Linked DNA regions of Homo sapiens. The protein of the gene in region 1 purifies or fractionates together with the protein of each later gene. This does not show direct contact. Each region holds a gene or a part of one and is shown on either strand. Other genes may lie near its edges.

Region 1 (4,976 bases):
GCCTAGACAACGACTACCACACGCCGCTGGACATGGCTGCCATGAAGGGCCACATGGAATGCGTGCGCTACCTGGACTCCATCGCGGCCAAGCAGAGCAGCCTCAACCCCAAGCTGGTGGGTAAGCTGAAGGACAAGGCCTTCCGCGAGGCGGAGCGGCGCATCCGCGAGTGCGCCAAGCTGCAGCGGAGGCACCACGAACGCATGGAGCGGCGATACCGGCGCGAGCTGGCCGAGCGTTCCGACACCCTCAGCTTCTCCAGCCTCACGTCCAGCACCCTGAGCCGCCGGCTGCAGCATCTGGCGCTGGGCAGCCACCTGCCGTACTCTCAGGCCACGCTGCACGGCACGGCCAGGGGCAAGACCAAGATGCAGAAGAAGCTGGAGCGGCGCAAGCAGGGCGGCGAAGGCACCTTCAAGGTCTCCGAGGATGGGCGCAAGAGCGCCCGCTCGCTCTCGGGCCTGCAGCTGGGCAGCGACGTGATGTTCGTGCGCCAGGGCACCTACGCCAATCCCAAGGAGTGGGGCCGAGCCCCGCTCCGGGACATGTTCCTCTCGGACGAGGACAGCGTCTCCCGTGCCACGCTGGCGGCCGAGCCTGCCCACTCGGAGGTCAGCACCGACTCAGGCCACGACTCCCTGTTTACCCGCCCCGGCCTGGGCACCATGGTGTTCCGCAGAAATTACTTGAGCAGTGGGCTGCACGGACTGGGCCGCGAGGATGGGGGTCTGGATGGGGTGGGAGCGCCGCGGGGTCGGCTGCAGAGCTCCCCCAGCCTGGACGATGACAGCCTGGGCAGTGCCAACAGCCTGCAGGACCGCAGCTGTGGGGAGGAGCTGCCCTGGGATGAGCTCGATTTAGGCTTGGACGAGGACCTGGAGCCCGAGACTAGCCCGCTGGAGACCTTCCTGGCCTCTCTGCACATGGAGGACTTTGCCGCCCTCCTGCGGCAGGAGAAGATCGACCTCGAGGCTTTGATGCTGTGCTCTGACCTCGACCTCCGCAGCATCAGCGTCCCACTGGGGCCCCGAAAGAAGATCTTGGGGGCCGTGAGGAGGCGGCGGCAGGCGATGGAGCGCCCGCCGGCCCTGGAGGACACAGAGCTGTGAGTGTCCAGCCTGGCGGGGGGGATGGAGGAGCAGGAGTTGGAAGGCCCCTGGGGAGGGGGTACAGATCTGCCTATTCAGGAGTAGGGGGTGGGGGATACTGTATTTCATAAAATCGAAATGAGGCCATCGATGATAAAAGGCACCCTTATTTTATTTACCACCAGCTCAGAAAAAGAAGTGGCCAATTTAATGATGACCCGAGGCATTCTTATCACAGTGAAAGTGCACCTCGATTCTGGGGACATCGACAAGTGGGGAAATGGGCCTCTTAATGTCAATGAATTTCAACAGTCACAGGAATCACAGCTGGGGTGTTTTTGAGCCCTCCCACCTCCTAGGTGCTGGGTTGTGCCCTTGAACAAGTCCTCTTGCTTAATCCCTCTAAAAGCCTGTGTGCGCTGGACTATATTGGTGGATTATATCGTTCCCATTTTACAGCCAATGAGCAAGTGGAGGCTCAGACAGTTAGAATAGCTCACCTCAAGGTCCTGCTGCTGCTCAGCATGGAGCTAGGCTTGATCCCTGGTCTGCATGGCTTTAGAGCCTGGGGTCAAGGTGGCTGCCATGGGATGCAGGGCGTGCAGTCAGCAGGGCCTCTCAATTGCCCAAGACCTCAGGCAGATTTTTTTTTTTTTTTTTTTGAGACAGTTTCCCTCTTGTCATCCAGGCTGGAGTGCAGTGGCACAATCACTGTAACCTCCACCTCCCGGGTTCAAGCGATTCTCCTGCCTCAGCCTCCTGAGTAGCTGGGATTACAGGAGTGCACCACCATGCCCAGCTAATTTCTGTATTTTTAGTAGAGATGGGGTTTTGCCATGTTGGCCAGGCTGGTCTCGAACTCCTGACCTCAAGTGATCTGCCCACTCTGGCCTCCCAAAGTGCTGGGATTACAGGCGTGAGCCACCGCGCCTGGCCTTAGGGAGATGTTTTACCTACTGTTCCTGAACTTTGCAATCAGGAACGTGGGCAAATGCTCCCAAGAGGGTCAGCAGCAGCCCTGGAGGCAGAGTTCATGTTCCAAAGGCCGTCATAGTTGCCCAAGGCTGCCACCACAATGGTCATGCTGTGGCCAGCCCCTGCCCTGGCCCCTCCCCAATGGCATCCCACAGGCCCAACAAACTTTGTCCTCATTTCCTCTTAGGTATCTATGGCCGTTATCCTGAATGGCTGGGGCAGGGATGGGTGTGGGGAGGCAGGCTGGTTCAGAGTTTTGGGGATGGGGAGGTCACCCATAGGCTGGCGTCCCCCATCCCTGACAATTGGCCTGCCGAGAGATGGGGAGGCTAAGTTGTCCAGATGGCTGCCCTGGGTGAAAATGATGCCTCTGGAGGGCCTCATGTGAGATCTGTTTCTTTCTGTCTCTTCCTCCACAGATAACCGGGGGCTCCTCTCCCCAGACCAAAATGAATTGCAAGTTGCCACAACCTATGGTGGGGTCTCGAGGTCCTCACAGTTGCCAGCCCTGCAGCCCCCTTCCCCAGGAGCAAGGACCAGTTGGGGCGACTCCTTTGAAAGTCTGTCTGCACCTTGAAGCTGAGGGTGTGGCCTGGAGGCACCAGAGGGGCAAGAGAATGTTCCGGAACTCCAGTTCTGAGGGGTCTTGAAGGCCCTGAGCCACCCATTCTGAGCAGCCGTAAAGGACATGTAGACTTGGGGGAGGCCTGCCCCAGAGGGAGGGCAGGGGCATCGGAACTGGATGAGAGTGTGGGAGGTGGATGCGGGAGGGTGCACCTGTCCCGGGCGCCGTGGCCTCTCCCACCCCTCCCCTGATGGTCTTGTTCTCTTGTGCTCAGGCCAGAGACTTGCTCACTTCCTGCATTGTTGTGAAGGGAAGAGTTTGGGCTGCCTCCCCTCCTCCCGTCCACCCCAGAGGGGAAGTTCCTCAGCCAGACTCTTCAGCCAAATGCCCCAACTTTCAGTCTGTACCCCATCCCAAGCATAGCCAGCTCCCCCTCCTTCACCTAGTGGTCAAGGCCCGGAGCTGGAAAGCCGGGTTGGGGTGGGGTGGGGGTACTGACGCCCTTCCCAGCTCATCCAGGGGTGGAGCCTGGCCTGTCTTCCTCCAACCTCCCCCTTTTTCGTTGTGCAGCCTGGCCCCCCAGGGACCCCAGAGGGCCAGGGCGCTAGATGCAAGGTGCTAGACCAATGGGCTGCAGTATTATAGCCCCCAGGCCTGGCAGGCATGCGCTGGGCTAGAGAAAGGTGTCCGCCAACCTCCTCAGTCTCCCAGGCCTGGGACAGGCAGAACAGGGTGTGGCTGGGTGTCAGGCCTGGGGTGGGTAAGTCCTGCGATGTGGACACTGGAGAAAGTGGATCCTCTAAACTGCAGATTGTCCCCAGGTCACCAGGGCTGTGTGCGTGTGCATGTTTGTGTGCATGTATGCGTGTGTGCATGCATGTGTGTGTAAGTATGTGGTATGTGTGAGCACGGGTGTGTGCTTGGGTGTGTGTGTTCTTGCATACATGTGTGCGTGTGTGTGCACGTGAACGCGTGCGTGTTTGTGTGTGTGCATGCATGTGTGTGCATGTGTGTGTGTGCATGCATGTGTGTGTGTGTGCATGTGTGCGTGTGTGCACACTCACGTTGGGTGGTGTTTGGTAGGTTTCCCTCCAGGTCTGGTAGGGACTGGGCTGTTGCGTGATTCTGCGTGGATCGGGGGTAAGAGAGCTCACCTGTGTCCCAGCCCTCTGATGGTGGTGAGACCAGGGGAAAGGCCAGCTCAGAGGGTGGTCACAGCATGTGTCCTCTGACGTATGCCCCCAAAGCTCTCCAGCCAGACTGAGGTCACAGATGTGGGAGAGTCCCTGATGAGCCCGCTGACACGTGTGCGCCCCTTTGCACCCCATGCAGAGGTGCTCTCCTCCTTTCTCAGCCATGGCCCCCCATCCCTGACCTCAGCTTGGGAAGCAGCTCCTGCTGGGAGCATGGCCTCAGCCCCCAGCATCTCCTGGGGCCCCCATGGCTGGGGCAGGGGAAAGAGAGCCCTCAAAGGCCTCTTTCTGGTCTGTCTGGGGGTTCCCATTCCCACACATGTGCCCAGAGTAGGGGGCATGGAGGAGATGGTCCCTGTCCTACTGCAGGACACTGAGGGCTTGGCTGCCTGCCACCGCCATCTGGAGCCCACCACAGCTCTTCTCCCTGTTCTCTGGGCCTGAGCCTGGGGCCACCCCCAAGTGCCGACTTGTTTCTCCCAGAGCCCCAGGTGCTGCCCCTTCTCTCCTGTTCCTCGTCCGTTTACTGCCGCAGCCCCTCCTGGTTCTTCTGGTGCTGGGGTGGAGCAGGCTCTGTGCTCCCACCACTGTACCCCGAATCCCTCCTGCAGGCTCATTGCCACTTTTGTAGAGAATGTTCTCTATCAGTATCGTACCTGTCTTGTCCTTTAATGCTTTGGGGATAGAGTGAAGAGTGGAAGGGTGGGGGTGGGGGCGGGAGGGGGTCTGCTCTGCGCTTGTGAGGACTGGGTCCTATTCTCTGGAGTGTCTTCGAGACCCCATGCTGTGCATCTTTGCAGGGATCCCTAGGCCTTTACCTGCTCTCCTAGCTCAGCCCAGAATTAGGAGCTGGTGGAGAGGCAGGGCTGAGAACTAGGGCAGGAGAGTCCCCCTGAGCAAGGAGGATGGCTGAGCCTCCAGGCTTGTTGCCAGGGCCTGCAGCTACGGAGGGCAGGAGGATGCATGTTCTCTCTTCCCACCAGTGCCTACCTGGGTTTTTCCAGAGATGGGCAGAAACATACTCCAGGAGGCTGCTGCCTGTCACCTGGGCTCTGGGCCTCTGGAGGGGTCTCCATGAGGGCCCTCCAGAGGCCCAGAGGGGTCTCCATGTCCCTCATCACCGCAGGCAGCTCGTGGGCAGCCTGATTTGAAGCC
Region 2 (4,491 bases), on another chromosome or scaffold:
ATTCTACATTTTGGTGAGATATAATTATTTCATTATATATTAATAATAATAGAAATAAAGTGCACAATGAATGTAATATACTTGAATCATCCTGGAACCATCCCCCACCTCAGGTTCCTGGAAAAATTATCTTCCACAAAAGCAGTCCCTGGTGCCAGCATGGTTGGGGACACCTGGTTAACAGATGTGAGACCCCTTTGCCTTGTCTTGGAATAATGTGCAGATATGCATTGTGTGAATGACATCTGATGGCGCCATCTTGCCCTGTACATCATTTTAGGGACAGCTCCAGTATTTCATGAAAATTAAAATTTCTTCTAGTGACGAACAAAATGATACTCAGAAGCAATTTTGTGAAGAACAGAACACTGGAATATTACACGATGAGATTCTGATTCATGAAGAAAAGCAGATAGAAGTGGTTGAAAAAATGAATTCTGAGGTATTTTCTTTAGTTATTTTCAAATGTTTTTATATGTGTGTATATTTTAAAGAACTGTATTTTGGAAATATAAAGGATTTTTAAGTCATATATATGTGTGTATATATTCTATATATCCTTTGTCATATATCTATATACGTACGTATAGGATAAAGCCATGTTCTTAATTCACCTTCATTTGCCTGCAACAGTTGAGTAGTGACCTGCACAATGGCCTCAATCCAAAGGAGAAGTATTTGATATTTTTCATAAGAATTGATGATCTTTCCACATCAGAAATAAGTTTTGCTACTGAAAACAGATTTTCTCGTTTTTGGACATTAGTTTTTTAAAAAATGTTAATAGAGAAGTCAATTGATTATTTTTACTGATAAGAAAGTAGGAAATGTATAGCTGGGTCAGAGGCCACATTGTGGATACCATTATCCTTACTTTTGCAGAGAGGAACAGTTTGCTCCAAGTAGTTTCTCATTTCAATGTAAAGAGGTTTGAAAAGAATGACATGCCATGATACACATTTAGTAATAATTTATTGATAAGTATTTTCTTTCTGGAGAAATAGTTCAGTATATTTCCCCTATTTCACCATTACTACTGTTTCAAACATTATAAAGAGGAAATAAAAGTTACCGCAATGGCAAATAATCTCATGATTTCTAAGAAAATCTCTATAAGTTGTATCTTATTTACCATTCATATTTTGAAACAAAAGGTTTCTTTTGTATTTATATATTTACACCACAGAAGTAAGTGTGGTTTTGTGGAGGATCACTAGAAGTAGCATCAGCAGACCTGGGGAAAATCCTGCATCTGTGTATATTTTTTGACCTCTCCTTTTAAGAATCGCGATCTTAAATGAGTTCAGTATTATATGTAGAAGAGCAATGCCTAGATACAGATGTGTACAGTGTAGAAGGGTACAGTGCTTATTTGACAGTTATAAATAAATGTAATTCTTATAACTGAGTATAGAAATATTAGAAATGTAGAATATCGGTAAAACGTTCTTAAGTAAAAGAAACTTAAAGAACTTTGAGAAATTGCTTCTGTCCAAATATATGCATAGCTAAGGCTCTTAGGATGGTGTGGTTGATAGGTTAGATATCAGAGTGTAAACCTAATCTTAAAAATGTAGTCAAATTATTAATCTTATATTTTATGCCTCTGGGTTTTTTGTAACTCAGAAAAAAGGCTTTTTTTAATTCTGGGATTCTTAAAAATCCTCTAGTGATTTATTTTTCATCGTCTTTAAATAAATATTTAAACTTTTAGGAATTTAGGAGCAGATTCCTAAAAGTTTAAATATTTATTTAAAGACGATGAAAAATAAATCACTGGAGGAATTTACACTCTTATTAGGTTTGAAGTTTTGTCCAATTTTTTTCCAGTTAAATATCCACTATGGGGATTCTTTCATTATACAAATACATGTTATTTTTGAATTTCAGAAGAAATCATGATATGTCAATCTATTGAGTGCTAACTAAAAGTTCTCTTTGTTTACTTAGCTTTCTCTTAGTTGTAAGAAAGAAAAAGACATCTTGCATGAAAATAGTACGTTGCGGGAAGAAATTGCCATGCTAAGACTGGAGCTAGACACAATGAAACATCAGAGCCAGCTAAGAGAAAAGAAATATTTGGAGGATATTGAAAGTGTGAAAAAAAGGAATGATAATCTTTTAAAGGCTCTACAATTGAATGAGCTCACCATGGATGATGATACCGCTGTGCTCGTCATTGACAACGGCTCTGGCATGTGCAAGGCCGGCTTTGCGGGCGACGATGCCCCCCGGGCTGTCTTCCCTTCCATCGTGGGGCGCCCCAGGCAGCAGGGCATGATGGGGGGCATGCATCAGAAAGAGTCCTATGTGGGCAAGGAGGCCCAGAGCAAAAGAGGCATCCTGACCCTGAAGTACCCCATGGAACACGGCATCATCACCAACTGGGATGACATGGAGAAGATCTGGCACCACACCTTCTACAACGAGCTGCGTGTGGCTCCCGAGGAGCACCCCGTCCTGCTGACCGAGGCCACCCTGAACCCTAAGGCCAACCGCGAGAAGATGACCCAGATCATGTTTGAGACCTTCAACACCCCAGCCATGTACGTGGCCATCCAGGCTGTGCTGTCCCTGTACACCTCTGGCCGTACTACTGGCATCGTGATGGACTCTGGTGACGGGGTCACCCACACTGTGCCCATCTATGAGGGGAATGCCCTCCCCCATGCCACCCTGCGCCTAGACCTGGCTGGGCGGGAACTGCCTGACTACCTCATGAAGATCCTCACCGAGCATGGCTATAGGTTCACCACCATGGCCGAGCGGGAAATCGTGCGTGACATCAAAGAGAAGCTGTGCTATGTTGCCCTGGACTTCGAGCAGGAGATGGCCACGGTGGCCTCCAGCTCCTCCCTAGAGAAGAGCTACGAGCTGCCCGATGGCCAGGTCATCACCATCGGCAACGAGCGGTTCCGCTGCCCCGAGGCGCTCTTCCAGCCTTGCTTCCTGGGCATGGAATCCTGTGGCATCCATGAAACTACCTTCAACTCCATCATGAAGTCTGATGTGGACATCCGCAAAGACCTGTACACCAACACAGTGCTGTCTGGCGGCACCACCATGTACCCTGGCATGGCCCACAGAATGCAGAAGGAGATCGCTGCCCTGGCGCCTAGCATGATGAAGATCAGGATCATTGCTCCTCCCAAGCGCAAGTACTCCGTGTGGGTCGGTGGCTCCATCCTGGCCTCGCTGTCCACCTTCCAGCAGATGTGGATCAGCAAGCAGGAGTATGATGAGTCAGGCCCCTCCATTGTCCACCGCAAATGCTTGTAGGTGGACTCTGACTTAGTTGCGTTACACCCTTTCTTGACAAAACCAAACTTCTCAGAAAACAACATGAGATTGGCATGGCTTTATTTGTTTTCTTGTTTCATTTTTTGTTTTGTTTTTTATTGGCTTGACTCAGGATTTAAAAACCGGAATGGTGAAGGTGACAGCAGTCGGTTGGAGGAAGCTTCCTCCAAAGTTCTACAATGTGGCCAAGGACTTTGATTGTACCTTGTTCTTCTTTTCAATAGTCATTCCAAATATTGTGAGACGCATTGTTTCAGGAAGCCCCTTGCCCTGCTAAAAGCCACCCCACTTCTCTCTAAGGAGAATGGCCCAGTCCTCTCCCTAGTTCACACAGGGGAGGTGATAGCATTGCTTTTGTGCAAATTACATAATGCAAAATTTTTTGAATCTTCGCCTTAATACTTTTTAATTTTGTTTTATTTTGAATGATCAGCCTTCGTGGCCCCCCTCTTTTGTACCCCAACTTGGGGTGTATGAAGGCTTTTGGTCTCCCTGAGAGTGGCTGGAGGCAGCCAGGGCTTACCTGTACTCTGACTTGAGGAGAGTTGGATAAAAGTGCACACCTTAAAACAAATTGAGGAAGCACAGTATTTCAGTACAGTGGACAGCTTAGCATGTTGACAACTGAGAATAAAATGCTCAGTTCTGAACTGGACAATGTAAGACACAACGAGGAAACACTGGAAATGGAAATTCAATTACGTCATTGTAGACTGGCTGCTGCTCTACATGATTGTGACCAAAGTCAGATAGCTGAAAGAGACTTCTTTCCAGAGAACAAGACATGAACAGGTTTATTTACAGAAGACAATGAATTCTCATTTATCTCACCTAAAAGAGAACAGATTCTTTCTCAACAAGTCTAATGAAGACAGTAAAATCAACAGGCTAAAAATTAAGCTCCACGAAACAAGATAAAACTCTGAGAGAAAAGACGGGGCAGGCCGCCATCTTTCCCGTTCAGGCAACGTAGTCATTCCAGCCTGCGGGCTTTGGAGAGTACAAACCGACGAGGGACAGAAGAGATCCCACAGCACAGCATAGCTGCTTTACCAAATCATGGCCAGACTGCTTCTGTAAGCAGGCCCCTGATCCTGTTCCACCTCACTGGACAGGACCTCCCAACTGGGGCCTCCAGCTACCCCCACCAGCATTCCTTGGCCAATGGAAATGTGAAATGTTCCTGGGACA

What was found.
Region 2: the proteins of USH1G (region 1) and POTEF purify together in Homo sapiens (affinity purification with mass spectrometry; 2 studies listed by BioGRID and IntAct, with this or other methods). This does not show direct contact.

Annotation. Positions count from the first base shown.
Region 1 is NC_000017.11:74,915,583-74,920,558, reverse strand, and holds the end of USH1G (pre-mRNA splicing regulator USH1G), read left to right. Parts: coding exon 1-1,105; intron 1,106-2,482; coding exon 2,483-2,486; 3' UTR 2,487-4,476; downstream 4,477-4,976. UniProt on the Homo sapiens protein: Plays a role in pre-mRNA splicing by regulating the release and transfer of U4/U6.U5 tri-small nuclear ribonucleoprotein (tri-snRNP) complexes from their assembly site in Cajal bodies to nuclear speckles, thereby contributing to the assembly of the pre-catalytic spliceosome on target pre-mRNAs.
Region 2 is NC_000002.12:130,073,032-130,077,522, reverse strand, and holds the end of POTEF (POTE ankyrin domain family member F), read left to right. Parts: intron 1-321; coding exon 322-442; intron 443-1,950; coding exon 1,951-3,279; 3' UTR 3,280-3,988; downstream 3,989-4,491.